Linked DNA regions of Homo sapiens: region 1 is linked to region 2. Evidence: fine-mapped expression QTL. A gene starts in region 2. The other region holds a variant in brackets. All regions are shown on one strand. Distances are from middle to middle.

Region 1 (15,258 bases), 32 kb before region 2:
ATACACACACACGTGCATGCACTCGCCACTACCCAGCACACGCCATCAGCCCTCTCCCTCTCCCACTTGCACAATCTTACACTCACCTAACACGGTTCCAGCCACCTCAACTTTTGTCCCAAACCCAGGCACTTATTCTCCAAGGATCTGAATTCAGGGTATTACCACCTCCAACAAAAGAAATGCTAGGAAGTCTGATTATCTGAAGAGCATTCACTTCTCATTCTGTTTCACACTTATCGACATATGCCCTGTGTGGCTGAGGACGTCCCTGGTGGGGTAAGGTGTCCTGTGTTGTCCACAGGCCCTCCCTTCCTGTGGCCCCAGTGGCAGTGGCAGGAGGCCCTCCTGTCCCCTGGAGTCCTCATCCAGTGAGTGCCACGTGGTTCCACTCATTTTAACAAGCGTTTTTTGAGCTGTGCTCTGCGCAGGCCATGTGACAGGTGTAAGCAAGACAGACAGGCCTTGGGCTAATGGAGTAAAACTCCTGGCAGTGCGTGGGTGCAGGAAGAACAGTTGGAGTTTGGAGAAACTGAAGCCTCCGGAGGCTGAAGTGGTGTGTCTGAGGTCTCAGTCATTCTGGGCTCTCATCTTGGGGAGGAGGGGCCATCACTGAGCACGTGGCTGGGGGTCCTGGGCCACACCAGCCAGGGAGAGGGCCCGGGGTCCTGCCAGAGTCTGGCAGTGGGCTTGGGTGGCCTGCACAGGAAGGAGCCTCTGGATTATACTGCCTTCCACACACCTGACATGGAATTGCCTCAGGACTCTAGGTGAGGTAGCAGCAACTTTCCCTCAGGACCCCAGGAGTCCAAGTCGGAAATAGATGCTTTGTGGAGCTTTGGCCAAGTTTTTCAAAGTTACTCTCTGCCCCATGGGGCTTGTGATTTCTGGGGGCTTCTTTCCTGATGCCCCTTCCTGGGCCCTGAGGGCATCCCACACCCAGAAGACACCAAAATCACACCCCCCGACACACACACATCCTGCGCCCTCACAGTTCCTAACACTGGAATATGGAGTGCTGATGCCGTCTATTTCCCCTTGACAATCAAGCTTTCTCCTGCCTTCTGTGAGCCCCGCTGCCTGCATTCTGTGTGGCTTGATCTGAGCCTGTGAGTTGACCTCAGAGCCCCTTAAGATGCTCTCTAGATGGTCCTGTCCTCCATTTCTGAGCTCTCACTAGAGGGCAAGCAGACCTGGAAGTGCGGATGTGCCAGGCCGGTGGGGCAGGGCAGTCACAGGTAAACTTCTACCACACCTGCCCAGGTGGAGGCAGCCACACCCCCAGCTGAGCCCAAGGCTGGGAGGCACTGCCATGCCCGCAGAGACTGGCCAGAGCGCTCTATCCAGATGCTGCTGCCCCCACAGACTGCCCATACTTGGTGGCGGGTTGACAGGTGTGTCAGCAGTGCTCCAACAGCACCTGCCCCTCCATGCCGGAGACATTCCAGCCAGATACGAAGCTGAGGGGCACAGCTGCCTCTGAAGATCCAGGGACTGTCTGTCTTGAGCTGGGCTGCACAGCTGGAGTGTGGAGCCCCTCCCTGCTCTCCCAGGGTGGGCACTGAGGGCATCTACAGGAGTGGGAGCCCTAAGCTGGCCTCTCACTGACCATGGGTGGTGGCCCATTCCTCCAGCCTCTTGTATGTGTCTCATAAACGGGTCTCCCAAGGTCTCCAGCAGCACCGTTGCGAGGTCGTCTCATTCTTGGGGCTTGGACTGGAAGGGCACTGTGCTCCCTAAGGCCGCATGGGGTTGGGGCCCTACACCCTGAGAAGGGGACACCTGGACCGTGGGCAGAGCCCGACCCATAGCAAGGCCTGGGAAACAGTTTTAGGAGAAACAGGAAGAGGAAGGAAGTTGGGGATGGGCAAAGACCGAGGATGGTGTGGCTGCAAATTCTAAATGCACACAGGAAGAACATGTCAGTGTGTTCTGTGTGGCTGCCCCAGGATGGGGCAGGGTGAGGGGATGAAAAGACCAAGGAAGCATGTGCCAGGCTGCTGTTCCAGTGGAGCACCTGGAGCATCCGTGAGCCCCTCTCACTGGCAGAGCGAAAGTGGGGCTGGGGGCTGTCAGGGATGCTTGCAGTGGGATCAGGGCTTGGTCTGCGAGGATTCCCCGGCCTTTCACTTTGAAGGAGGATCTGCTTGGGACAGCAAACAGGCTAGCAGGGGAATGTTCACATCTCACCCACCCACCCACAGACAGCCCAGTTTTCAGTGCACGTGCCCACAGGAGGGTGCGAGTCCTCTAGTTATCTGTTAGAGAGGCACCGCCAGCCTCACCCTCAGCAAGACACCCACCATTGGTGAACCGTCACTCAGTCTCCTTGTCCTTGGAGTCCCAGAGGTGCCTGCCTCCCTCACAACCCTGTGTTTTTGAGGGCTGGTGCCGACCAAGTGGGATGTCTAGGAAAAGGGTCTGGCAGGGTGTGAAGATGCCCCTGGCTGGCCAGGTGCCCACCCAGCCCTGCTCCTCTGACAGCCAAATTCCACCCGCGCTGCAGGGCTTGTGCCAAGGCCCCAGCTGCTCCACACTTCGGACTGGCAGAAGGCGCCTTCGTACCCAGCATCACCCCTGCCCAGGGCCCACTTGGGAGGTGCAGACCCAGTCCTGAGCCGCACGCCCGCCCAATGCTGTCTGTCTGTGTCTGCTCTCTGCCGCCCAGCTTGGGATCTGCACCACGCTGAGGCAGCCGCCCTCCTGCCTCCCGCTCCCCGGAACATGCCCATTCTGCTTCTCCATCCTGCCCTCGCTGTTGTTCGTTGTCTGGGCGGGGAGGTGGAGGGGCCTGGGGGAGCCCAGGCCCAGCTCCCCGTGTCTGTGCTTGTGTCGAAGCCCTCCCCACCTCCTGGGGCTCCACGTGGCCCGAGAGGTCCCCGCCGTCCCCCTGCAGCCTCCCTGATGGGCGGTTTTGGGGGAGAAATTTTTCTTTGTTTCTCTGCCCAGAAACAACGTTCAGCCTCGTACCGGGTGGCCACGTTTCGGGGGTTGTGACTTCCCTGGTTGTGTTGGGTTTCATTTTCTCCAGGCATCATCGCCGTGCCTCCTCACCTCACCTCTCTTCTCTCCCGCTCTCTCCTCCTCCACAGATGCCACACGCTGGCAGCTCTGACCAGCCCCACCCCTCCATACAACAAGGTTTGCACGTACCACACCCCAGCAGCCAGTCAGGGCCTCCATTACATCACAGTGGGGCTCCTCCTCCTCCTCCTTCCCAGCCTCCCCGGCAGCCGCCACAGGCCGCTCCCAGCAGCCATCCACACAGCGACCTGACCTTTAACCCCTCCTCAGCCTTAGAGGGTCAGGCCGGAGCGCAGGGAGCGTCCGACATGCCGGAGCCTTCGCTGGATGTAAGTTGGGGTCGCCACTCGCCTTGGCCTGGGGCTAGGCCTGGCGCCGGGACCTGCCCGAGAGAAGGGGTGGGTGTGAGGGCTCGAGGCCCCGAAGGGAGGAGGTGGGTGGGCGGTGGGAGGGCTTCACCCAGACCTGGCTCCAGACCAGGAAGCCCCATGATGGGGAAGTGTCACCACTGAGGGTCCCCACCCTGCTGGCTCCTGTCCCCCCAGTCCCTTTGGCCATAGCCCTGAACCCCAGCCCTGACCCACCTTCTGACCCAAGCCCTGCGGGGTCCCTTGCGCAGCACAGGAGGGTCCCTGCCCTCCCCCGATGGTGAGCTTGCGGTTTCTGTGTCTGCCTCTCTGGCCCGGGCAGGGAGGGCTGGAGGGAGAGGCCGTCTGTCTGCCTCGCTGGTGTGTGTCTGTCTCCAGTTTTCTTGTCCGCGTGTTGTCCATGCCCTGCTTCTGCTTGCTCCATCGCTCACTCCAAGAGGCCCCCATGTGGGTGACAGAAGGTGGGGGCAGAGGGGGCAGCCTTGGGTCACAGCCAGGGGCAGCAGGCCATCATGGGCAGCAGAGGTGCCAGGGCTCCTACCCTGAGGTCTGGAAGATGGTGGGGGTCACCCTGGATGATGGGGCTGGGCTGCTGGATGGGGCTGGCGGGATGGGACTGAGCACCGGCCCCGCCCATGCCTACACAGAGCTGGTGCCAGACTCCGGGAGGAGGCTTGTCCTCGGCCCCTCCTGTTCTTCACCCCCAGCCCTGCTCTGTCAGCCTCTGCCCTGCAGCATCAGAGGAGCTCTGTGCTAGCTAGGACTCACTCACTGTGCAGCCATCTCAGGTCCTTGCCCAGTGTTCCCCCTCAAACCAGGCCAGTGGGGCTGCTTTTAGATGCATGAGGCTCCCCATGTGACAGACTCCAAGGATATCTCAGTAGAGGGTAGAGACAGTCTGCATCCCCTCCGGGGCCACAGGGAAGGATGGCTGCCAGCCAGCCACAGGCTCACCAAGGAGTGGCGAGCCCTTGAGAAGAGGGATGTTGGGGGGTTGGGGGCGGTGCAGGAACCACTCGCCTTCCCGCCTTCCCACCAGCCCACCTCCTTGTGCTTACACGTGAAGCATGTGATTTCAGCTGGGAGGCCCAAGTGACCTGCCATGGGGCCTTCCCAGGTTAGGGCTGAAGTCCATGCCTGAAAAGGGTCAGCCCTGCTCAGGCCTCAGCTGGTGGGCTGCGGGTCCCAATCCTGAGGCTTGAAATGAGCATGGGGGTGCCCCACACTCGGTGCAGTGGCCGGGGTATGTGTGGGGATACCTGGCAGGCCCAAGCCCAAGGCTGTTCTCTACCCCTTTTTTTGGCTAGGGTCCTGAGAGGCAGGTGGAGGGGGACGGGCCAGGGCGCCCCTGCATTCCTCACCCGGGGCCTGCCTCTCAGGCACACCTCATCTGAACTTCATTACTCCTTCTTTTCCAGCTCCTTCCCGAACTCACAAATCCTGACGAGCTCCTGTCTTATCTGGACCCCCCCGACCTGCCGAGCAATAGTAACGATGACCTCCTGTCTCTATTTGAGAACAACTGAGGGCCACCCGGTCGGGGCCATCCCTCCACACTCTGCATCCTACCCCACCTACCCAACACACTTTTCCACCTGGGAGCCTGTGCCCTCAGACCGCCCCGCACCAGAGCCACGGGCTGTGGGGCGGGGAGCCCTCCCCCGCTGCAGCCCTCTCAGAACAGAGGGGTAGGGAGGGTGCACCAGTGCACCAGGAAGGCTGTGTGGGTCTGGAGCCCACGTCCCACCTCCACACCCTTGGCTTGGGCCCATGCCCAGCGCAGGCCTGAAGACCACCCTCCCGAGAGGAACCAGCCCGGTAAGAGGGCACACGCTGATGCGGCTTCCCGGTCCCTCCGCGTGTGCCGATTCCAGATGACCTTCCAGTGTCCCCAAGGTTCTTCCATCTTCTAGACTGTAACCCTGCCTCCCTGCTTCCTGGTCCAGAGCCTCCCTCCAGTGACTGTGGAGCCTGAGAAGGCCCCCGGGCCCCAGCATGGGCCCCGAGCCTTGGAGGAGCACTGGCAGTTGGTGGCAGTGAGACCAGCCCACCCACCACCACCCACCACAGAAAAGCACAAACCTCTGGGAAAGACAACGTCTCTCGGGGGCCAGGGGTCATCGGTTTGACCCCTGACCTATAAGCCAAGATACCCCATAAACACACTCAGAAAGCAGAGAAAAAGGACAAGAGTCTGTGTTTGAGAGGGGGTCTGCCATTCCTGCTTGGGGACTGGTGGGGAAGAGGGCCAGGACATCTTCTGAGCCAGGACGTCCCTGAGGCTCCACCTCCAAGCTCAGACAGGGCCCAGGCTTGGGGAACAGAGAGAGCAGGTGTACACCCAACCAAAGTGATTGTGCCCTTGGTTGGGGGGCGCGGGCATATAACCTGTCAGAAGCAAACAGGAGCGGCAACTTCTAACTTTGCTCCAAGCCACTCTCTTTTTAAACAGCAACAATTTAAAGCTATGAAGTCACCTGGAGAAAAGGAACGTTGCTCTTGGACAGCAAGCAAACCATTTCTCTCCGTCTGTTCTGTTTTTCTCCTAGTCCCTCTCCTGCCACCTCTCCAAGACTTCCGTGGGACACCCACTTCCCTCTGTCCTAGTTCTCTTTGTCCAATCAGATGGCAAGGGCAGTGCGTGGAAAGGCCGGGGAGGTGCAGAAACCAGAGCCCAGGGCAATGGTGTCTGTCCAGCCCCTCCCTCTGTCCCTGTGCTCCAAGCTGCCCCCGGCTGCAGCCCAGGCCATGGACATGTGCACCAGTATGTACCTGCAGGCATGGGGGGGAGGGGGGCGTGTTTCTGGGCCTGCCCCAGACACTGCCCTTGGCTGCCAGCCTACCCTGCCTGCACTCCTCCACCATCACAATCTCACCCAAACTCCTGCTCACTCAAGCAAAAGCAGCCTCTGGCCTTCCCTCCACCGCTTTGCTCCATCTGGCTTACCACTCTCCAGGGCCTCCTGGGGAGCCTGTCCTGTGTTCACTTTGTTTCAGGCTGGTCTGTGCCCCGTGAGCCACATGGCCTAGGGTGATGCCAGGTTGTCCCGTCACTGGGGTCCCATCTGTAAATTCTTTGCGCCCTTCCCGGCTGCTGCCTGGGGCCCTTTCCTGCTCTCCCGTCCGCTGTGGGTGGTCCCCAGC[T/A]CTCCTCTGTGGGTTTTACCGGAAAGGTGGCCCCAGCTGTTGACTTCCAGTCACTGTCCCAGACGGCACAAGGTTTTCTGTAGGAAAGCTGCCATTGCCCCGGCCCCTTTTCTTCCTTTGTCCCGTTGTCGAGGTTTTTTCAAATAGCGTGTTGTTCAGTATGCAAATCAATTATTTTAAGAATCGCTTTTGTAAATATCTTTGTGAATATTTTAGTATCGTCTTTGATAATATTCAACATTTTCATGACCTGGTTATAGCCTTTGCTGGTGTTTTTAAAATACCTGGACTCAATGACAAAGACCGAGTCTTCTTTTTTTTTAAACAAAAACAAAAAAAGCAACCAGGGCTATTTGTACAGTTGAAGGGGTGAACAGAATGGGCGGCTGTGCTGGGAGTTGGAAGACCGGGCAGCCCGCTATTTAGAGCCATCCCTCAGTCAGCTGGCAGGGACAAGCCAACGCCAGGTAGCATGTGGCCACCCTTGCCCAGTGTCTGTGGCCTGGCAAGTGGCCACGCCCTGTGTCAGACCATCTGGGAATTAAGCTCCAGACAGACTTACAGATGCCTTCCTTAGGAGTTCTTGCTTCTTGCGTTGATACTTTGCCCCAGAAAGGCCTGGGATTCATTCTGGTTCTTATCAGGGTGTGTCCACACTCTGCTCACAGGTGGATCCACGGCTTTCCAGTGCGGAGAGTCGAGATGCTCCCTGCAGCCCAGGCCCCGGGCACCTCCTGCAACCATCTCTGGGCTCAGCACCTGAGGCGGGTTTCCTGGGTCCCCTCTCCAGCAAGCCTCCACCAGCAAGCTCGGCCCAGAGCTTCCCTTCCGGCTGGCTCTGAACCGTGCGTGGTGCCTACAGCCTGCAGTCTGGAGACAAGCTCTTCCGGAGTGCTCTGGGAGCCAGGCCAGGGTGTGAGGGAGGTGCAGAGGCATCCGGGGCGGGAGCAAGCCCCAGGTTGTGACAGGTGCAGGTAGACAACGCCCATAAACAGAGATGGTCCTGAACTCTGGAGAGATCCTTCCCTGATCCTTTCGGACGACTACTTGGAGCCATAAGTAACCTCAGCAAAAACGAGGCCTCTGCAAGCCACTTTTCCATGCCAAGCATCCACCCGGCCCACAGGCATGTTTCTGCCGCCACTCCGCAAGATGGACAGGGAGCCAGCAGGCAGGCGGGAAGGGCCAAGTACAGGCAATCACCCCCATCTTCTTGGTTTGAAGCTTTATCCATGTATCATGTTCCGTGTAGCCATTTTATTTTTTAAGAAACTGCTAATACTTTCTCCCTAATGGAAGCCCTGATCCCCCAGAGAGCTACAGGTCTGCTCCCGACGGGCCTCGGGCCTGACCCGTCCACACAGGGCCGTGTCAACAGCAGCGACTCAAGGGACGTGTGTACATATGTAAATGAGAAATAGAGACGTGTCAACAGATGCATTCATTTCTCTTGGAATGTGTATTGTTTTTATTTTGCGAAACAAAACAAAACAAAAAAAAAAGCTTGGAACTCCATCACGTGGAAAAACTAGATCCTGTTGGTTATAGCATTTGTGAGTTCTCCACGTCTGTCTCTCTCGCTCATGTAATATACTCTGACCCTGAGTGGAAAGGGGTTTTTGTTCTGTTTTTATTTTACCTACATGTACTATTTAGCTTCAGTGTACTAGTCCTGCCACCTGTGTATTTTTAGGGTGCTATGGAAATAATGAAAAGAAACGGGGATTTCAGAAGAAAATTGTAACCAAATTCATACTTTGTATAATTTTTGATATCATGATCACAGGTGATTCACACGTACACACATAAACACACCCACCAGTGCAGCCTGAAGTAACTCCCACAGAAACCATCATCGTCTTTGTACATCGTATGTACAATGCAATCATTTCATACTTTAAACTGGTCAAAAAACTAATTGTGATTTCTAGTCTTGCAAAGCTGTATGTAGTTAGATGATGTGACAACCTCTAATATTTATCTAATAAATATGTATTCAGATGAAACCTGTATATTAGGTGTTCATGTGGTTATTTTGTATTTAAAGATCAAATTATTTGACTATTGCTAGACATTTCTATACTCTGTTGTAACACTGAGGTATCTCATTTGCCCATGTTAATTTTTTTCTAAATAAATTGACAAAAACAAAGGTTTGGCGAATTAGCTATTTTGTGGATGTTAAGGAGTGGTTTGGGTGTTTTTGCTTTTGTTTTAAACCACACCCCCCGCCCTGTTACCCTCTGCACACACAAAAAAGAAAGGCAGGTGGTTTGGGTGTTGAATTGGAAGAACCCCTGTCCATGGGGGTCCCTGGAACCAGTCCCTGGTGGGGCAAGTGCAGTGTGTGGCCGGATGGTTGGGGGAGTTGGGGTGGCTGAATAGGGCCAGGTGGCTGCAGGGTGCTAGGGGCCCCTGTGGCATGTGACTCAGAGTGTGCAACAGTGTCCCATCTTTGATGGTCCCTTGTGGATTATGCTGGGTTTAAGTAGCAGGAAGCTATTCATATTAAGCCACAGAGGGTGCTGTTCAGAGCACACAGGAGTGTGGCTTCAATGGAGAGTGAGCATTCACTGCACCCATGGCTCCCTGCTGGCATCTCAGCATCCCTGGCCTCCACCTCTCGGTACACCTGCCCCTCCCCTCCTAGGGAAGCTTGGGTTTTCCCTCCTCCGTGAGCATGCTTTACATGGGGTACTGTCTCACGATAGCCCCTGCCCAGGCCATGGTTCTAACCATCCTTCCAGCCTCGGCACCAACACAAACTGACAACACTTGATGTGTCTCCGATTGAAGTTTTAGGAACATGCATCTGACACAGCCCCGCAGCCAGTCCCTGCCCTCCCTCCACGCAGCCTCACCTTAGGGGGAAAGCAAATGTGGCTGTCATGGCCTTTCCTCCACAGGGACTGTCCACAGAGGGAAGAAGGGCCGGGCCGGCACCCCAGAGATCTCCACTCAGATGTATCCGGGTGTCAGGAGAGTGAGGGGCATGTGTGTGCAGGAGCCGGCGGTGTGGGGGAGGCTGCAGGGTGCTGCCTGTAGGGGGCTGGGTGCCTAGAAGCCCCCTGCTCCTGGGGCCTCTCCGAGGTGGCTGGAGTTTCTCCTTTTGGAGGGAGGTGGAAGGTGAGGAGGAGAAAAGATTTACCTTAAATAATGGAACACCCACCGGCCACTGCTCAGCTGCAGGCACTGCCTTCTGCCAGCATCACCAGGACAGGCTGACTCTCTCTGAACAGACACCCCTCCGAGAGGAGGGTGATTAGTTAGCTTGAGGGAGAACTTCCCGTAGGAGACATGCCCCCCTCCCTGTGCCTTAGAGCAGTGTGGTGGGGCTGGACCAGCACTTTAATAAAACAAATGAGAATACAGTAGAAAATATCAGGAGTGTGCCCTACAAAGTAAAGGGTAGCATTCTATCAAGAAACGTGTGTGTGTGTGTGTGTGTGTGTGTGTGTGTGTGTGTGTGTGTCTGCTGAGTCATGATGTTAATTCTTATTTGTGGGTTGTGGTTGAAAACAAAAAGTTTGAATGCCATTGACTTAAAGGCAGGAAGTGGGCAGGGGAGCAGGGAGGGAGGAAGGGCAGTGTGCTCCCCCAACTTCATGATAATAAGCAAACCTTCCTGGCATTTCAGCTGGAGACTCTGAACCTGGGATACAGGCCTGTGGCTGCCCCACAAGGCTGTATGGAGACTGGCCGGCCCCATCTCAGCTAACTCCTCCCCAGACGGGTGACTTCCTTCTGTGAGCCTAACCCCTGGACCAGAAACATCCACCTAAAAAGCCCAGTGGGGGCCCTGGCTTGGGACAGTTCAGAGTTCAGCCTCCCAGCATGTGGGGCCACACACTGTGGATCATCTTACGTCTCTTCTTCCTCTAGCCCACTGCAAAAAGTCTCCACCCTGAATCCACTGACTGTCTTCATGTAAGGCCATGGGATGCTATTGGGGAAATTCATTCAGCCCCACAGGTCGATGTCAGGATACACTGGGGTCTCCAGCCTCCCTGAATGCTAAGGGCACTCAATGTTTAATGGCCCCCCATTTCCCTTCTCCTCTGCTCCAGCCTCCTGCTAACCACGCCCACCTCGCTCTAAGCAGGCTACCCTACCCTCACCCAGCTCCCCACTGTCCCTGCTGCTACCCACAGACCTATCTCCATCCACCCTGGCCATATCTTTTTCCACCCAGGCCCAGAGGATGTGGTGTCCCTTCCCCAGTTGGGGCTACCCCTCCCCCAGCCCCTGACACCATCACCCCTTTCTCTTCTCCAAGGAGTCTCATTCTATCAGCCCGTTAACCCTCCCCATACCTCTGCCTCCCGCCTCCCCGGGTTTAGTGGCCCAGGCTCTGGCATTGCAAGGTTCAGCTTGGTCTGGGCTCCACCCCTTGATGGCCAGTCTCTGCTCCTTCCCATGCAGGCTTCTCAGCCACAAAACTGCCAGTGCCCACTCTCTTTCTCTGTCACCCTTCATATGCCTGGTTCATGCCCCACCAGTTCTCTGACACTTCTCCTGCAAGCTCACCAATGGCCTCTTCGTTGCTGATCCACGCTGCTTTCTGAGACTGGACCTCACAGCTGCACTTGACAGTTGCCATTTCTTCCTTGAAGCTCTCTTCTCTTGGTGCTATGGTTTGAATGCTTGTCCCCCCCACCACAACTCATGGTGAAACTTAATCCCCGGTGTAACAGTACTAAGAGGCAGGCCCTTGGGTCATAAGGGCTCTGCCTTCATGAATGGATTGATGGATTAATGAGTTGGCAGATTCATGGGTTATCATGGGAGTAGGTCTCTTATAAAAGCCAACTTGGCACGCGCTTGCCCTCCTCGCCACATGATGCCTTCTGCCATACTACAATGCATCATGAGGCCCTCACCAGATGCAGCCACCCAATCTTGAACTTCCCAGCCTCCAGAAGCATGAGCTAAATAAACTGCTTTTCTTTATAAATTACTCAGTCTCGAGTATTCTGTTAGAGCAACAGAAAAGAGATGAAGACACTTGAATCCATGACAACTTCCTCTTTCATCTGTTTAGTTTTCCTGGCATCCCTCTGTGCCTTCCTTGTCTTCTCCGCAGGTTCCTATGGTAACTAGGTACTTGTGGTGCTTCATCAGGATCTTCTTCACCGACTGGCCCACCCATCCTGCCGCTGCTACGGGTGTTGGCCGCCAACAGCCCAGAACGTGCCCCTTTATCAGAGAATTTCCCTCAGCTCACAGAAACCTCCATGCCTGACAGGTTACCTGCCCCCTATCCCCACACATGCACCCCTGCCAGGCAGCGCACAGCCAAAATTGACTGCCACAAGGAATAAAAGGCCTCTTGGCTGGGGCATGATCAGTGCTCTCAAATCCTCCCTGTGGGTCAGGTCAGGGCTAGACTTTACCTGAGGCCACATGCTAACTCCACTCTCTCCCCTTCCTTGTTCTGCCTGCCTCCCTCATAGGTTTCTCCCAAGATCACTCCCTCAATAAATCATGGAATCAGCATGCCTGTCCTATGCTCTGCTCCTATCCAGATCGAAGACAGTGGGTGCTGGGAATGGGTCTGGGAGGCAGGCTCTGAGGATAGGATGCTGGAGAGGTACCACTGACCAGATGACAATGAGGACCCACCACTAGTGGCAGGAATTGGGTAGCAGTGTGCACCTGTGGTGAACTGGGATGGGACACAGGTGAAGGAGCTACACAGCCACAGCAATGTATCCGGCATCTGAGAGATATGGGCAAAGAATAACTATTAAGACTATGGACTTGCTAAATGTGGCTATTACTAAATGTCACCAATGCATTGAAGAAAGGAAATTACAGTTACAAATATCTTAACTGGCAATTTAGAGTGTGCGCATCAGAGGAAACTTCTTGGCAGGAAGCATTGGAAAGCGCTTACCTTCTGCAGCCAGAGGGCAGATGGAGTGACAATCAGGCAGAGGACTCATTGGAAAAGCAGCAGAACTTGAGTAAAGGCTGAATTCTCCATCAAGGGAGGTCTCCTATATCCAAATCAGGCCCCTGGTAGGGAAGGAGACACCAAGACTTGGGATGAGGACTGTCATACCAATGCCTCTCACAAAAAATGTTTATTATGACCAGCTGACAGAGAAGGGAAATTCTTGAGTTTGGGTCACAGATGGGTTGACTTGGCCTGTGGGTGTAAGCCAAAAATGGACTGAGCCTGCACTACAGTGCCATCCAAGGGTGGCCCTGAAAGATGTTGGTGAGAGAAAATCCCTCCAATAGGCAGAGATTTTGCCAAAGCACCTGGTCATCTCACGGCAAGAGAAGAGACCTGAAATAAGGATATACTCGTATTCATGGGCAGTGGTGAATGGCTTAGCTCTTTATTGGTCAGGGGCCTGGGAAAAACAAGTCTGGACTATCAGAGACAAAAAGGACTGGGAAAGAGGCCTGTGGATCTCTGAGAGTGGCAAAAAGTACGAAGATAACGTATCACATTTCAATACTCACCAAAGAGCATCCATTGCAGAAGCAACACCAAACAACCAAGTGGGCAGGATGACTCGGCCAGTGGACGTCAGCCAGTCTCTGTCCTCACTCGTCATCCTCCAACCAGTCCTTGCACCATATGGGCTCATGAACAGAGTGCCATGGTGACAATGACGAAGTTATATATAACCCTAACAGCCTTGGCTTCCTCTCCCCAAGGCTGATCTAGCTACTGTCACTGCTGAATGCCCAACCTGTCATCAACAGAGACCCAAGCTGAGCCCGTGATACAATAACATTCCAGGATGAAACCAACTAGCCACTTGGTGACAAGTTGATTATGTAGGACCCCTTCCCTCATGGGAAGGGCAGTGATTTGCCCAGACAGGATGGATGCATATTCTAGGTATGAATTCACTTCTCCTTCCAATGGAGCCTCAGGCCATTGGCACTATGGCTCACCAAGAGTCTGATTCACTGACATAGGCCCTCAGTTGACATCATTGCAGACTAAGAGAGCTGAGTCACCATGATTGCTGCATGGCAGTGGGCACACGACTGTGAAATCCACTGGTCCTTACACATTTCACAACATCTAGAATCTGCCAGTCTATAGGGGATAGAGTTGCCTCTTAAAGACACAGCTGAGGTACCAACTGGGAGGCAATACCTCATCAGTGTGAAGGATATGGGGTGCTATCCTTCAGGTTGTCCTATACATCCTAAATCAATGACCCCCATTCCCAACAATAGGCAGATAAAATAAACTTAATGTGAGAAGTGACTGGATCTGAGCAGTGCAAGGGGTGGGCTGTAGTAGACGCTGTGGCACCCTGCCCAAATCCCTTCTGCAGGGCAAGGCACCCCTCCCCTGGCTGCCGTGAGTGTTGGCTCTTCACAGCTTACAGCCCACAGCCCCCTTTCTCTGGAGAATTGCCCTGAGGTGACCAGAGCTGTCTCACCTGGGAAGTTCCACCCTCTGGATGTGGCCCACAAAAAATGGCTAATCTAGAGTACAAAGTGCCTGCCCTCTTGCCTTAAGGATCTGGCTTATGCTCCAAAGTCTTTGCTCCATGATCCAGCCAAGGGCAGCCTTTCTCCAAGCCCCTCTCATTGTTCATCTCTTCCCCCTCCTTACTCTGCTTCTCTCACTCTTACAGATTGTTTCTGGATAGCAGTACCTTTAGTGAATAAATCAACTTCACCTGGCTGCAAAAAAAGTATTTCTCTGCTCAACAAAACAGAACCAAAAGCTGCTGCTGAGTGCTAATGATGCAAGGGCACAAGTATGGGCAGGTAGCTGAGAGAAGCAGAGAGTGTGACAACTAGAGAGCACTGATTGTGACCAAGGGGCATCTGCTTCTCTGGGTGTTTGTTGCCAGGTGAGAATGCAGACCCAGCTGTTGCTAGACTTCTGATTTTCCAAGAGAATCTAGAAATGCAGGTTTTTAAAAAAAGTTGCAAATAAGCAAACAAAAATGTGTACAGACACCTATGGCCTAAATAAAGTCCAGGTGTGAGCTGCATCTGCCTCAGTGGTCCCCAGTCCCTGACCTCTGACCCAGGGCCAAATGCTGGTTTAAGTGGCGGGACTGAAATGCAGCCCAGCCCCGTGAGACTCTGGAGCTTAACCACCAAGTTCTATACCTCTAGATTAGCTGGAGAGACCAGTCCCTGCCTAAAGCAGAAATACCCATGGTCTGCAGATCCCAAGACCGGACCCATCTGCCACCATCCCCAGCCCTGAACATGCTGTCTTTGGCCACCATAACACACTACCCTGTTCTCATGCCCATATCTTTGCCAATGTCTGCCCCTCCTCCTGGAATGCCACTCTAGACTTTTGGGAATGCCTGTGCACCCTTATCCTCCTTCCCTGGAAACTGCCATCTGCCGCTGCAGAAGGGCAGACATGTTTGACCCACATGACCAAACCCCCCTTGACCCCAGCCCATTAGACCAGGAGGGACACGTGTCGCGAAGGACTAGCTGGCCAGTGACCAATCATGTTACCCCTGCCCCAGTCAAGAATCTGACCTGAGGCACAAAGATTGCAGGTGCCATTGTGGCCCCGGCTGGATCTAAGGCCTGACCTGCCTCTTCCCCTGCTCTCAGTGGATCTCTGTTACTAGGCTCAGTCTTTGCCTTTGACTTTTTCCCTCCCCTCCAGGCTGCATGATTTCCCTTTTTCTTTTTATGACTTTGCTTATATCAAAAGTTAAGTCTTATGTCAACCTTGTCATGAGAACAAAAGAAGCTTTCTAGCTTT
Region 2 (15,258 bases):
CTGGGTGACAGAGCGAGGCCCTGTCTCCAAAAAATAAAAAATAAGAAAAAAAAATAAACCCAACAAAAAACCCCCAAAAAACAAAACTCTGAGGTTGCACGCTGCACTTTCTGTTCCCCCAAGCAGCCTCAACTTAGGGGGTCTAAATCGCAGAGTCTCTGAACCAGAAGGAGCCAGACAGGTCACCTGGCCCCACCACTTAGCCCAAGCAGCCATCTTCTGTGGCATCCCTGCTTGGTATCTCTCGCACAGCTTCAGCCATGAGGAGCTTCTTACTTCAAAGTATCATTCTGCAATATTGCTGACTGGTAGGAAGCTTTCTGTCTAAATGAACCCAAATCTGGCTCCTGCTCATCCTGGTCAGGCCTATGAAGCCCCACTGTGGCCTCTGCCCCAGTGCAGCCCTCAACTCTCTAGAGATGGCATTGTGTCCACCCCACCACACTTCTACTGTGACCAGCTTTAGTTAGATCTTCTCCGAACACCCTTGATTCGCAGGGTCCCCTGCTCCTTGATTCTCTGCTGAATGGGCTGGGCCTGTCCCCATGGAGCTGAAGCTTCCGCTGTGATCCCGAGATATGCCTGGACTCACCCAGCCCCAGGGCCTGTGATACGGACCCTCTGTCCTAGGAACATAGGCTGCTAGTTGGTCAACTGTTTGAGCCTTTCTGCTCATCTACAATCTGAGATCTTTGTCACATAAATTGAGGCCTCTCTCAGCCTGACCTGCTGATCTTTTGTACTAAAATTCAACAGTAGCAAAGATAGCATTAGAGGCAGGAGCCAAGTTCTGGGATTAAGCAGAGCAAGGCCAAATACAGGCTGTTCCACTACTCACTTAACACAAGGGAAGACCCAGGTAACCTTGGATGGCTTATGACTTCTGCCCACTTTGGAGGCCCTATTTATAAAAAGTAGTTAATACTAGTACTTGTTCTCAAGGGCCATGTGGGGATTAAGAAATAATGTTATAAATCCTTACCATGTGCAGTGTATTAAGTGCAGCAAAAGGTAGCTATTCTTATTACCATAGTGCTTATCTTCTTCTTCTTCTTCTTTTTTTTTTTTTGAGACAGAGTCTCGCTCTGTCACCCAGGCTGGAGTGCAGTAGCTCGATCTCAGCTCACTGCAACCTCTGCCTCCTGGGTTCAAGCAATTCTTCCTGCCTCAGCCTCCCGAGTAGCTGGGATTACAGGCACCCACCATGACGCCCAGTTACTTTTTTTTTTTTTTTGAGACAGAGTCTCGCTCTGTCGCCCAGGCTGCAGTGCAGTGGCGTGATCTTGGCTCACTGCAACCTCCACCTCCCGGGTTCAAGCGATTCTCTTGCCTCAGCCTCCCGAGTAGCTGGGATTACAGGCATGCACCACCATGCCCGGCTAATTTTGTATTTTTAGTAGAGATGGGGTTTCTTCATGTTGGTCAGGCTGGTCTCGAACTCCCGACCTCAGGTGATCTGCCCGCCAAGGCCTCCCAAAGTGCTGGGATTACAGGCATGAGCCACTGCGCCCGGCCTAATTTTTGTATTTTTTAGTAGAGAGGGGGTTTCACCATGGTGCTTATCTTCATTTGAAGAAAAGACAAATACTTGTCATCAAGGGTGGACCATACTGATCAGAAGGTGGACAATATGGATCACAAGGTAAGCATTGTTGACCAGAAGGAGATTTATTCTAATGGAGCAAGGAAAGGTATCAATGTGAGTTAGTCAGTGGAGGTTAAGAGGGTCAAGTCAGTAGATTCATGAAAATTGCACAGACCAAAACAACAGACCAAAAAGGGAAACTGCAGAATTGGAGGCTGCTTGCTTCCTTGCACCCACAAGGCAGAGAGCCCAGAGCTCAGGTGAAGTCTGACTGAGCAGCATTTTAGGCTTGGCAAAGTCTTGGGCCCCACTCCTAGACAACTGGCAGTGGGATCCTCTCCTGAGGATAATGATGCATTGAGAAAAGCCACTGCAAATCAGTAAACAGTAAATAAAGGTGGCAATGGGGCATGCACCAAGGACGAATCTGGACTGGACTTGGCAACCTTGCGGGTCCTGCTGACCAGGTACTTTTCTATTGACTCTGGGCAGGGACTGTGTAAATGAAGTCAGTGTGTGTTTCTATGTTACCCAGCTGTACTGTTGGGTGTCGCCCTGCAGGGCTGAGCCAATGGTAGATTCTCTAGGGTGAGAAGACCCAGTCAGTGGGAGAGAGTGCAGATATGGATTCAGCCAGGCCTGGGTTGAAATCCAGCTCAGCCATCTGGTGTCCATCAGGTGGGGACAACAGACCCTCCCTTGCAGAGTTATCATGAGGACTACATAGGATCATAGATCTCAATCACTAAGCACAGTGTCAGGCTAGCTGGAAGAAAACGGCTGCGTGGAGGGGATGATGTCTGGCACAAGCCAGCTCAGAGGCACCACTCAGAGCCCACCTGCCCCTGGAGACACAGAGCCAGGTGAGTCAGGAAGAATTCCACTCTCCACTTGGCCCTAGTGTGACCTTGGGCACATCATTAATCTCTCTTGGCCTCCATTCCTTTATTTGTAAGACAGGGACAACAAGCTCCACTTTGCAGGGTCACCCTGAGGCTCAGAATGACATCTACAAAGTGCGGAGCCCAGCACGGAGGTATTAAGTGAGGCCCCGTCCCCTTCCCAGAGGCCAACAGGATGCCATGGCCAGACCCTCAGGCCCTCCCGCTGAGGACTCTCTCCCAGCTCCTCCACTCTCCCAAGCTTCAATCAGTCTCCCTCAGAGGCATGAGACAGAAATAACCAGCCCATTCCACGTCTTTACAAAGACAAGGAAGTCCTGTCTCTTGGACCAGTTCTCCCTGACCATGCCCGTGAGGTCCTTGCCAAGAGCTGGTGACCAAGCTTGCTGAGACAGCAGATCCAGGACTGGCTGTGCATGGAGCAATGGGATCTTCCAGGAGTCCTGGCTGGGGTGGGGTACTATGGGTATGAGTTATCCACTGCACATGGCAAATGACCCAACACTTAGTGGCTTCAAACAACAAACATGGATTATCTTGCAGATACTCCCAGAAGGCAAGCTCTGCTGAGTTGTGAGTTGCAGGGGGCTGTGGCCAGGCAGGTTGTGTGAGAGCCCAGCAGCTGAGGGTGAGCCACACCCTACTGAGCTCCACCCTACCACACTGGCTCCGCTCTCAGTGGCCCGCAGTGATCCAGATCACACGAGTAAAAGACCAGCTGGACTCCAGAGGAGAGCTTCGCCCCATCTTCCCCTTGTGGGTCTCTCTCTGATCACTGTGCCCACCACCTCCCTGGGCCTTAGTGGAACCTCCCTTCTCTGCCTCTGCCTCCCCATCATGGTCTGGTTCTTAGAAGCCAGCAGAGAGAGGATGATGAATGTACTGACTTTGCAAAGGCCACGGGGGACACTCCATCCCCAGAGAGTCCCACAGCAACCCAGTAGAAGGGTCTGGTGGCTTTCTGAGTCGCGGGGAACCTCTCTCTCAGTTTCCCTTCCCATGACAGATGCTATCCTGGACCCCAAACCCCTCAAGCATAACCAGACAGATGAAGTCCATGGCCTCATCCTACCTAAGGACCATTGTCTAGGCTGGCAGCACAGGTTGTATGACCCAGTGACTGGCACTGGTAATGATCTCAGCCTTCATGATATTTAATATTATAGAAACCCCACCTCATGCCCACACCGGGGCTACCTTCACCCCCAGCCCCTCCTGGAGGGTCTCTCCAGAACAACTGTAACTTTGTACCCCACGACAACCACAGCGTTCACTCCTGCCACACACAGGGCTACCTGGGAGAGGTTTGTTCAGCAGTTCCAGCATCTCAGGACACCATAACCTCCTGTCCCTGTCTTTGTCCTTCTGAATCCCCAGGGTGAAGCTCAGGGCTCAGAACACAGTAGGTGCTCTGAAAACATGTCTGCTGAGTGAACTTTGCAGAAAGGGCCCTGGGGAGAGTGAAGAGAGGGTCTGACCACAGTCCTGGTACTGCCCAGCTGTATGGCCTCGGGCCACTCCCCATCCTTCTCTGAGCTTCAGTCCTCTCACCTGTACAGTGGAAATCAGAGCTTACAAACTATCAGCCCAGAGTCCTCATCTAGTTTGGATACGGTGTTTACAGTTCATTCGGTGTTTAATTTTATTTTGAAATTCATTTCAAAAATTTGAAAACTAGATTTCTATAAAACTTAAAGTCTTCAGCTTTTATTGAAAGATGAGAAAACCTGGGTGGCCTGTGTGGACCCATAGTCCCATATACAATAATTGGCTGGCCTGGGCAGCAGCTACCTCTTTACCTGGGACATCCATTAGCTATCTGGATACAGTGCCACCTCCCCTCACTCCCTACATACTTACCAGCTTGCACCACTCATGTGTATCACCTGCCTGGCCCCCGCAGGCATCTGAGTTTGCAACCCCTGAATGAGATTCTGAGCTTAGCACAAACTGATTGTTCTTTGGCTTTGTGAGGCCTAGAGGTGGTGTTACAGGATCCCTAGGTGACAAAACCCATCAGCACCCTGGATAAAAAACCATGTGAGCTGAGTGGAGAGAAACACTGCTGTTTCTGAGGATAACACAGTCTATAAATAGCCTCAGAGCCAGGTGAGTGCTAACACCTGCCTGATGTCACCTGGGCCCGGAGCCCTCAAGGGCTGGGCATGTGTTCAGCTCATGGCTTAGCCTATAGACTATCCTTCTTCCTGATACCACTGAGAACAGAACAGGAAGGGATGACATCATAGCTAAGCCTTTGGGGAAGGTAGGCTTTTCTCTGGCTTAGGAGGTAGTGATGACGTTTGATTTTCCAAAGAGAGTGGAAGGAGTAACATGAATGAAAGAAGCTGGTTCCCAGTCCAGAGTCCTCAGCATGGAGTCTTTGCACTATTCATGGCTCCCCAGTGCTATCCAACAATGTCAGACCTCAGCCAGGCCTTCAGAGCCCTCTGTGATTGGGTCCCCACAGGCCTTTCAGCTCATGCTCACTATTAAAACCATCTCCCTAGTCCCTGAGCTCCATAGCCCCCTGGCCAACTCCACCGTTTCTATCTTACTGTGTTGTCTGCCCAGGCTTATCTCTCTTGCCTCCCCACCCTGTCCCAAGGACCAGCTTCGTGGTGAGAGTGAGAAGGGTTTGACATGCAATAACCCTGATTGTGAAGTCAGACAGACTGGTCCCAGTTCCAACAGCCTGCCCTTGGGCAATTCACTCCCCAGCCCCTGGGGCCTGGCTTCCCCATCTGCAAAACAGAGCTGTCTCTCAGGCAGAGTTCACAGCTGGGAAAGGGTTCTGAGAACTGAAGTGGTCAAGTGAATGAAGGCAGCACTCCCCTGGGGTGGGGATGCTCATGCTTCATCAGGATGGGGCATAAACTGAGTCCCCCCAGGAGCAGGCTTGAGAAACAACAGGGTACGCTGAGCTACCTGCTGTGGCTGAAGGTCCTGTGAGCTCAGGGCCTGGAACTGGCCGCAGGGAAGCCTGGGGCCTTAAGGAAGCTTCATGACAAGGCACATGGCGTGATTCCTCCACTCTCAAATCCACAGGATGCACTGGTAGAGGAAGGTCTGGGACATGTGCTGAGGGCTCAAGTGGGCTCCCCACTCAGGCCTGCTCACCTCAGGGCACAATCATAAGAAAGGAGGGGCTGCTCCCCAGGGCAGAGTGAGGCCCCATTCTGGGCTGGGACCTGGAATGCATCCCACCTGGGCTTCACTGGGTGCCTAGGCCCCTCCTAGGCCAGGAATCGGAGAAGGGGGCTATGAACTTCCAGAAGCCAAGCTAGCCAAACTTCCAGAGGCCAAGCTAGCATTCTTATGAAGCTAGGGCACTGCTCTGACCTCATGAATTTGCTTGGCTGGCATTTTGCTGCCTGACCTGTTCCCATGAGCCCATTCAGGATCTGGGGCAGGTCAGTCCAGAGCTGGTCCCTACTCCTGCCCACCTGCCTCCAAGGCTCAGCCCCACCCCTTTCTCTGACCCCTCAGGCCTCTAACTGAGACCGCAGCTCTCTGAATCCCAAACTGTGAGAAAGACAGTCCAGACTCTGTCCATCACAGATGCCCACAGGCACAGTACTTAGTTGACAAATCCATGTCTCTCTCGTTCATTTTATCCTAAGAACAGACACGAGAAAAAAGCAGGATGAGGAGCATGATCGCACCCTTACCCTCCAGATGGGAAACTGAGGCCCAGAGAGGCCTGGAGCACTGGTGCAAGCTGGTAGCAATACTCCAGGGCTCCCTAGCCCTAGCCAGTGCCTTCCTGTGTCCAGGCCTCAGCTTCCCCTGGGGACAGTACAAGTGTTGGGCCAGATGCTCTCTCAGGTCCCTGCGTGGCATCCATTTATTGCAGACCTCCCACCACCTTGCAGTGAGGGTGGCTCTGGCTGCTGGGAAGCCCACTTTCAGCACGTGGGGTTTAAATGCTCCTGCTGTGGGTCTCCCCACTGAGTCCCCTCCCAGGGTGCATGCTGATGGGAGGGGGCAGCTGGCAGTCTGCCCCGGGGCTGTCAGTGTGGGTCCTAGGAGGAGGGATCAGACCCAGTCCTGGGGAGGGCTGGGGGCCTGAAAGGAGCATGATGAGCCCAGGCTGCGTTTTCAGTCTTGCTAGAAGCAGGTCTGGTCCCCAGAAACAACTAGAGACAGGCCCAGGCCGGGACAAGCAGGCTAGGGGGCATCATGGGAGGTGTCTCAGCTTATCTCCTCCCTCTTGCGCCTCTAGCTCACTAATCCCGCCTCTCATCTCACCTTTCTCTAACCCTCTCAGACTGCAGGACCTAGGGCAGCAGGGAAGCTTATTTGGCCTGAGCCTTACCTGCAAAGGGCTCAAAGGTAGACTTTTGCTATTATATTCAAATTGCAACGTATAGATGCTCATATTTTGGAATTAATTACGTTTTAGCAGTTTTTCTTTTTTTAAAAAAATCTGCTGGTACCTTAATAAACATGGAACCAGCAACCTTTTGCCAGGTGTCTGTTCTCCGGGTCTCTGGGCCTGGAGGCGGGAGTGTTTCAAAGCACTTCACGCTCCGCGGCCCCACCGGCTGGCTGCGCTGCCCGCTGCGGCCGGCAGGGGTAGTCCACGGACAGGCCTGGAGGAGGCGGGACGGGGGCAGGGCCGGGAACCTGGGCAAGCCAATAAAGGCTGCGGCGCGCGGCTGCGCGGGACTCGGCCTTCTGGGCGCGCGCGACGTCAGTTTGAGTTCTGTGTTCTCCCCGCCCGTGTCCCGCCCGACCCGCGCCCGCGATGCTGGCGCTGCGCTGCGGCTCCCGCTGGCTCGGCCTGCTCTCCGTCCCGCGCTCCGTGCCGCTGCGCCTCCCCGCGGCCCGCGCCTGCAGCAAGGGCTCCGGCGACCCGTCCTCTTCCTCCTCCTCCGGGAACCCGCTCGTGTACCTGGACGTGGACGCCAACGGGAAGCCGCTCGGCCGCGTGGTGCTGGAGGTGAGACCGCTCGCAGGGCCGGCCTGGGCGCGGGACACGGGCCCGGGGAGAGCCCTGGGCCCCGGGCGGCGCGGTGCCGGGCGCGCTGGGTGACCTTGGGCCTCCCCATGCCGAGCTCTGGGCCTCAGTTTCCCCATTTCTGAGAATGGGCGTCAGAATGATTTCTTCCGGCCTCCCTCGGAGCACTGGAGCGGGGGAGACGGGAGGGAGGGCACGTGTGGAGGAGAAAGCTCAAGGTCAGATCGCAGAGAGGGAGGGCTCAGCACCTCTGGGCCGGCCCGGGCACGAGGGAGGGGCTCCAGGAGCCTTCTGGGGCTGAGCCTAGATCCGGAGCTCCGAGGTGGGTGTCGGGGGTCTTGGGGTGAGCGTCGTGGCCCAGCGGGTGCTCACGTGGCGGCCCTTGCACAACACGGAGCGCTTCCTGGCTCCGGCCCCGCCCCTGCGGTCGGGCTCACACTGGGGGTGCTGGGAAATGGAGCGAGAGGTGGTTTCCAGCAGTAGTGCGGGCCCAGTAGGCCTCAGGCCCCGGCCACCTGGTGGACCCCAGAATGCCCCTCCTGCGAGTCGGGACACACTCAGAGACAGTGTGCCCGGCGCCTCAACCCCTGCCACTGTCCTTGGGGGCCACACTGAGCACCTCCCCTAACTCTGTTTTTGGGTCTTTTCTAAAGCAAAGTAAGAAACAGTCACCAGGGTAGCTTTAGAGGGAAAGCCCTAGTGGAGCCTTCAGGTCGGCCACACATTGACAGCAGGGGTCTGTTTGTGTTGACTGGCCCGTATCCCAGGGAGCCCTTAGTATTTCTTCTTCATTCTCAGTTTCTTCTGGAAAATAGGGACACCCTTCCTGCTTCCATTTGGTTCCAGGGTGGGTCTTGCAGCTTCGAGGGTAGAGGCTGGCTGGGATGGGGCTTCAGCCTTCCCTCCCCACACCCTCATGCCTCTCCCTGGGCCTCAGTTTCCCAACCCCGAATGGAGGAGCTGGTCTGGCTTCTACCTTAGACACACTCTCTTGTCCCTGAATTTCTGATGCTTTGGGCCCAGCTGTGGGAGCACTGCCAGCTGTGTCCACAGAAGTAGGCCAAGATAGCATTGTCATCTCTTCTGACAGATTAGGAAACCAAGGCCACCTCCTCCAGCCTTGGGTTCAGGAAACGGCTCCCAGAAATGATAGAGCTGCCTCCCATGGGGGTTGGCAATAATGGGAATGGAATGTCCACGTGCTTCTTCCTTAGCCTCCTTGGCCACTGTGGGGGTGGGTGGGTGCTGAGAGACACCCACCTTCACCTGCCTCTCCAATGACCATCCTCTTTTGTCCTTCTTCTCCCCCAACAGCTGAAGGCAGATGTCGTCCCAAAGACAGCTGGTAAGACAGGGCCTGGGGCCTTCTGAGATGGGTCTAGAGGGAAGGGGGCCAGGCAGGGCAAGGTGGGTGGCGTGATGAGAAGAGTCGGGGCTCAGAGACCCCTGACAGATGGGAGCTCCATGTGTGGCTCAGCCATTGGGTGCTCTGGGGCAGCCCTGCCATCCCTCTCTGGGCCTCAACGTTGGCTCTGCCCTCCTCTCTCATAGTAGCTGGGAGCCTCAGAGCCAGTGGAAGGCACATGTAAATTTCCCGGAGACTTCCCCACTCCTGGTGCCCAGTGAGGCAGGGTGATGGGCACACAGCCCTTGAGTCCGTGCCCTGCTGGCCAGCACAGCCATGAGCCTGTACTCTTGTCACAGTGCTCAGGTACTGAGGACAGGGAAGGGGAGTGACTTGTCCAGTTACATAGCGAGTTGGGCAGAGCAGACCCAAGAGGTGGGCCAGAGTCTTTATCCCCCTGTTCACTGCTGGGGATGTAGCAGGGATTTTGGCTGGAACGGGTATGACCCTGGAATTGGGGCCTGGCCCTGTTGACCTGTGTTTCTCTTCGACCCTCAGAGAACTTCAGAGCCCTGTGCACTGGTGAGAAGGGCTTCGGCTACAAAGGCTCCACCTTCCACAGGGTGATCCCTTCCTTCATGTGCCAGGTAATGTAGTTTCCTCTTCTGTAAGGGGGGATGAGAGCAGGAGCTGCCTTGTGGGTGTGTGAAGATGCCTGGTATGAGGAAGGTGCTGAGCAGAGCAGCTGCAGTTGCTCTGTCAGCCAGGCTGCCCTCCCTGCATTAGCCCTGTATCCAGGCTTCACTGCACATGGAAGCCCAGCCCCAACCCGCTGCCACTCCAGGTCAGTGGCAGGCCCTGCCCGGGGGACTGGGAGGTGGAGTCTATCAAGAGAGAGCTGGGTTGGGAGATGGATGTGCTGGGGGTGGCCTTGAAGACTTTGAAGAGCCAGCATATTCCAGTGGTCTCTGACCTTGTCCCCTGTGTGCCCCTGAGCACTGGTGTGGGAGATAAGAGAGGGAGAGAGAGAAGTGGAGGAGGCGGAGGAGGAAGACAGGTCCAGGGCAGGAACACACACGCCAGGACTTGGGGCTTCCCTTCCCAGAGAAAGGCATTATTCTCGGTGAAATGAATGTTTTTCGGTCATGTGTCATGCTCAGTTTTCACAAGCATTGGTATTGCTGTGTCAGAGGTTTGGGGGTAGGTGTTGTAGCAGGAGCTTCCTGTGGGTCAGGACCCAGGTGGTGTTGGGGCTGGTCTTCTATTAGCACAGACCTTCAAGATCAGGGATTGGGTGTCCTGGGCAGGCAGAGCCTGGAGGCAGGGGCATGGCTGTCATGACCTCTTTGAAGACCTTCCTGCCTGGAATTCTCTCCCCATTCCCTCCACCCTGACCCAGTGGCCGTCATCGTACCGTGGTAAGTGGCAGCGGGTTGGGACTGGACGTCTATGTGCGGCGAAGCCTGGATACGGGGTGAACACAGGGACGGCAGGCCTGGCCCAGCCCTAAGGCTGATGGTAAAGTAGGAGCTGAGGTGGAAGTCCTGAGCCAGGGTGGGAACTCCAGCGCGGGAGGGCTCCCTGGCACAAGGCGGTGGCACCGGGAGTCCAGACCAGAGTCCTGAGTCATCCGTTGGGAGGGATATCAATTAGGGAGCACCTAATTGACACCTGTGGATGCTTCAGCTGGGCTGGTCAGTTCCCCTCTCTTACCCACGGATCCCATCTCAGGAAAACAGCAGCCAGCCATGGCCTGGGCTGGGCAGCGCTAGGCATAGGGGCTGCTACCAGGCTCTTCTGGCCATGGGTGCCCCATGCAGGTTTGGCCACGGCTGCCTGGGCCTTAGCTGAGGCCTGAGGAAAGATGTCAGCCTTGGGCAGACTCTGTCCTGGGTCTGCAAGGGTTGGGAAAGCTGCTGGGCTGGGTAAGGGGCAGTGCGCGGACAGTGAGGGGACTCGGCCTGGGGAGCTGGTCTGGACCAGCTGCTGGTACTCCCACAGACTAGACTCGGGAACTGGGGGGCCTCTGGCCTCTTCCTTGTTGCCCTCCAGGAGGAGTGGGTTAAATTCTGGGTCACTAAGTATCATCTCAGAATGGCCTTTAGGTCTTTTGAAGATTACTTAAAAATTTGCTCAGACAAAAAGTAAGTCATTTGGAAACAAAGGTAGTTACGGTGACAAAAGATATTTAAGTTTTGTCTTTTTTTTTTTTGCTTATTATTCTTATTATTAGCTCTTATTTTATTGGATGTTTATTGACCCCTTTACCTGAGGGGCGCCAACTGGGTGGGCTTGGGTGGGCTGAGGCTGCTGCCAGCGCCAGGGCCGTGGCCCCCGCCTGCTCCATGGTAGCCACTCAGAAGGTGCTTTGTGCTCACAGGCGGGCGACTTCACCAACCACAATGGCACAGGCGGGAAGTCCATCTACGGAAGCCGCTTTCCTGACGAGAACTTTACACTGAAGCACGTGGGGCCAGGTGAGTGGGGGCCTCCTCTAGGGTGAGTGTCCCCACAGCTCTGACCTGGCCTGGAAGCCCCAGCAGGCCCTGAGAGGCCACATGCAGTCACCGTCCAGTATCTGATGAGTCTCCTTCCTCCCTGCGACACTGTAGGCTGTCTCAGCATTTCTGGCTTGTTGAGTTTCCCTAGAGTTTTCTCATCTCTCAGTTTAAAAAGCAGGGTTTCCTTTGGGAACTTTGTGGAAGAACCTTTAAGCAGAATGGAGGCCCTGGCCACCTCCCTGTTTGTCCTCTGAGTTTCGGGTTGGAAATTCTAGGACACTTAGAATTGTTGCAGAATGGTCCTTAGGTCCTTTGAGGATTATTTAAAATCTTGCTTAGATAAAAAGCAAATGGTTTGGAAGCCAGAGTGGTTATTGTGGCAGCATCGTGTCACCTATAAGACCCAAGGTAGAATGTGGAGATGTCTGGAGGTCAGGTCCTGGGGTCCTGCCCCAGGTCCCGCCCCAGCTCTACCACTGAGAGCTTCCACAAGGCCCTGTCCTCTCAGGCCACCCCACTGAGAACTAGCAGGCAGCAAAGGCAGGCATACCCTGGGGGGCTGGTATCGGGCCCTGGTTCTCCTCTTCTGGGTCCCAGGATCTGCAGACTCGAATGTCCCTGGTGTGGTTTGCACCGTCTGCCCTTTCAAATGCCCTCCCAGGCAGGTGCCTCCAGGGGCAGCGTGGCTCAGCCCTGCTGGTTTTTGCAGGTGTCCTGTCCATGGCTAATGCTGGTCCTAACACCAACGGCTCCCAGTTCTTCATCTGCACCATAAAGACAGACTGGTGAGTTCCCTGCCCCAGGCCCTCTGGGAATGCGGGCAGCCTTGCAGCTGGAGGAGGATTCGTGCACTTTTAGGGGCAGGCAGTTTACAGCCAGGCCTTCTGCTCTGGGACAGTGGCCCTCTCCCAGGCTGTGTGTTTGTATGAGAAAGAGAAAGTTAGTGGAAGGATCAAGGGAGAATTGGGGTTGTTCCTGCAACTCTGTCATGGTTCGGGTTCCCATTGTTGCTGTCACCTGGAATTTTCTGAGTGTGTTCTGCTCACACGCACACACGAAAGGGTTTCTCTACCAGATACATTTGGGAAATGTTGCAAAACATATTATGAGGCCTCAGGAGGGACTGAGTAGAAGCCCACTTGTGTGGTTTTAACCTGGAGTTTCCCAGGCTTGTCTTGACCATGGGCTGAGCCTTGGCAATGCTGCAGCAGACATTTGGATATCAGCAAATTTCCAAATGAAGCCTCTGTATTATCATAAACCTGCAGATAGCCACAGGCCTGTAAGGGCCCTGTTTTCAATGCCCATGGATTTTAGGGATGTCTCTTTCCTGGTACATTTTCCTCTAAGGGATAAATTTCTCTGGCCAGAGTCCCAAATGTCCTAGCCCTGGGGCACCTGGGGATGAACTGGCTGGGAGCTGACTTGGTAAAGCCCATTTCCGAGGATTTTAGGGAGACCTAGGTGGGGCAGACACTAGAAGTGTCCAGCCTCCAAGCCCAAGAGATGTGGCCGGCAGGGCTGGGCAGGTCCTTGCTGGCTCAGCCTGCTCTTTGCTCCTTCATGGGACCCCAGTGGATCCTGCAGTTCTGCTCTTGGCTGGAACCACGCCAGCTTCGCTGGAGCTGGACTGAGCCGCCTTTTACATTATTGGACTCTCTCGGGTTGAGAGCTGCCCAGGACTCCTGCAGTTTCACCACCCTTGTTCCTTTGACTCTTGACTCATCATTCATGACCGTTAACGTGGTTCCATTTGTATGGACTTCTTCTTTCTTCAGAGCATTTCAGTATCCTGTTACCTCCCCATGCAGAACAAAGAATACTCCACTTTTGATAGATGGGGTTACCAGGATTCAGGCTACATGGCCTGAGGCAAGGTCACAACATGAGTGACAGAATGTGTCCTGGAAGCCAGGCATCCTCTGGGGTGTATTTGGGGCGCTCAACAAGGCTTGATCGAGCTTTGGGGGTAGATCTAGCTATTCCATGGGGATTCTTTTCAGAATTGCTGTTTTCGGTAACTAATTCCATGACCAGGTCCATGGCATTGGATGACATTGCGCTACACTGTTGCTCACCCGGGTCACCCGTCCTCACAGGTTGGATGGCAAGCATGTTGTGTTCGGTCACGTCAAAGAGGGCATGGACGTCGTGAAGAAAATAGAATCTTTCGGCTCTAAGAGTGGGAGGACATCCAAGAAGATTGTCATCACAGACTGTGGCCAGTTGAGCTAATCTGTGGCCAGGGTGCTGGCATGGTGGCAGCTGCAAATGTCCATGCACCCAGGTGGCCGCGTTGGGCTGTCAGCCAAGGTGCCTGAAACGATACGTGTGCCCACTCCACTGTCACAGTGTGCCTGAGGAAGGCTGCTAGGGATGTTAGACCTCGGCCAGGACCCACCACATTGCTTCCTAATACCCACCCTTCCTCACGACCTCATTTCTGGGCATCTTTGTGGACATGATGTCACCCACCCCTTGTCAAGCATTGCCTGTGATTGCCCAGCCCAGATTCATCTGTGCCTTGGACATGGTGATGGTGATGGGTTGCCATCCAAGTGAAAGTCTTTTCCTTGACCAAGGGGGACAGTCAGTTTTGCAAAAGGACTCTAATACCTGTTTAATATTGTCTTCCTAATTGGGATAATTTAATTAACAAGATTGACTAGAAGTGAAACTGCAACACTAACTTCCCCGTGCTGTGGTGTGACCTGAGTTGGTGACACAGGCCACAGACCCCAGAGCTTGGCTTTTGAAACACAACTCAGGGCTTTTGTGAAGGTTCCCCCGCTGAGATCTTTCCTCCTGGTTACTGTGAAGCCTGTTGGTTTGCTGCTGTCGTTTTTGAGGAGGGCCCATGGGGGTAGGAGCAGTTGAACCTGGGAACAAACCTCACTTGAGCTGTGCCTAGACAATGTGAATTCCTGTGTTGCTAACAGAAGTGGCCTGTAAGCTCCTGTGCTCCGGAGGGAAGCATTTCCTGGTAGGCTTTGATTTTTCTGTGTGTTAAAGAAATTCAATCTACTCATGATGTGTTATGCATAAAACATTTCTGGAACATGGATTTGTGTTCACCTTAAATGTGAAAATAAATCCTATTTTCTATGGAAGACTGGTACCTGGTTTCTGGAAGAGGGGTCTGTGACTTGGAGCTGATCTTTACTGAGCTCGCCGTGGCAGATGCCATGCTCAGGACGTTCATGTGGATGGTTTCATGTCATCGTGCTGGCAACTTGTCCTCCCTGCCTTAGAGATGAGGCTCAGACAAACGACCTTAGCACCCATAGCCTATGCCATGAGCACTGGCTCCACCCTGAATCCCAGCTCCTCCCCTTAGTGACCCCAAGTCTGTTTCCCTCAGCTGCATAAGGAGGCGATATAGTTTGAATATTTGTCCCCAGCCAAATCTCATGTTGAACTGTAATCCCCAGTGCTGGAGGTGGGGCCTGCTACGAGGTGTTTGGATCATGGGGACGGGTATTTCATGGCTTGGTGCTGTTTTCTTGATGGTGAATTATTGCAAGATACGGTCATTTAAAATTGTGTGGCACCTCCCCCTGCCCCCTTCTTGCTCCTGCTTTCACCATGTGACATGCCTGATCCCCCTTCACCTTTTGCCATGGTCATAAGCTTCCTGAGGCCTCCCTGGAAGCTGAGCAGATGCCAGCACCATGCTTCCTGTACATCCTGCAGAACCATAAGCCAATTAAACCTTTTTAATAATAAATTACTCAGTCTCAAGTATTTTTTTATAGCAATACAAGAATCCTAACACGGGTTAACAATAAGGCCCACCTCGTAGGGTGGTGATCCACGTGAAGTGCATAACGCAGTGTCTGGCGCACCTTCCTAAGCACTCTGGAGTGACAAGGATGATGACCTTTCCCCTGTCAGGGTCTTAGGAAGGAGGAGGGATGCCAGAGCAAAGGAGCCTCCATCATCTGAGGTTAGGAGTGGACTTC

The links. PIP is the estimated chance that this variant, and not a neighbour inherited with it, causes the effect.
Region 1: its variant is fine-mapped to the expression of PPIF in whole blood (TOPMed, PIP above 0.99).

The regions. Positions count from the first base shown.
Region 1 is chr10:79,307,832-79,323,089 of GRCh38, forward strand. ZMIZ1 (zinc finger MIZ-type containing 1) reads left to right here. Exons shown (of 25, transcript NM_020338.4): 24 at 3,093-3,353; 25 at 4,811-8,688. The coding sequence ends at 4,918. Among named protein-coding and RNA genes, the nearest start is that of PPIF, 32 kb to the right of the region's middle. RefSeq lists enhancers at 3,949-4,449, 5,207-5,706, 9,853-9,912, 10,502-11,077 and cis regulatory regions at 8,748-9,248, 8,774-9,274, 8,780-9,280, 9,463-9,963, 9,596-10,325 and 9 more. The variant T/A (reference allele first, on the strand shown) is at 6,537.
Region 2 is chr10:79,340,312-79,355,569 of GRCh38, forward strand. It overlaps PPIF (peptidylprolyl isomerase F), which reads left to right and starts at 7,158. Exons shown (of 6, transcript NM_005729.4): 1 at 7,158-7,432; 2 at 8,765-8,795; 3 at 9,354-9,442; 4 at 11,176-11,272; 5 at 12,006-12,081; 6 at 13,396-15,023. The coding sequence starts at 7,238. The coding sequence ends at 13,531. RefSeq lists cis regulatory regions at 6,825-7,402, 6,902-7,943, 6,902-7,575, 6,902-7,453, 6,902-7,452 and 12 more, silencers at 6,932-7,341, 7,362-7,591 and enhancers at 8,906-9,406, 11,409-11,909.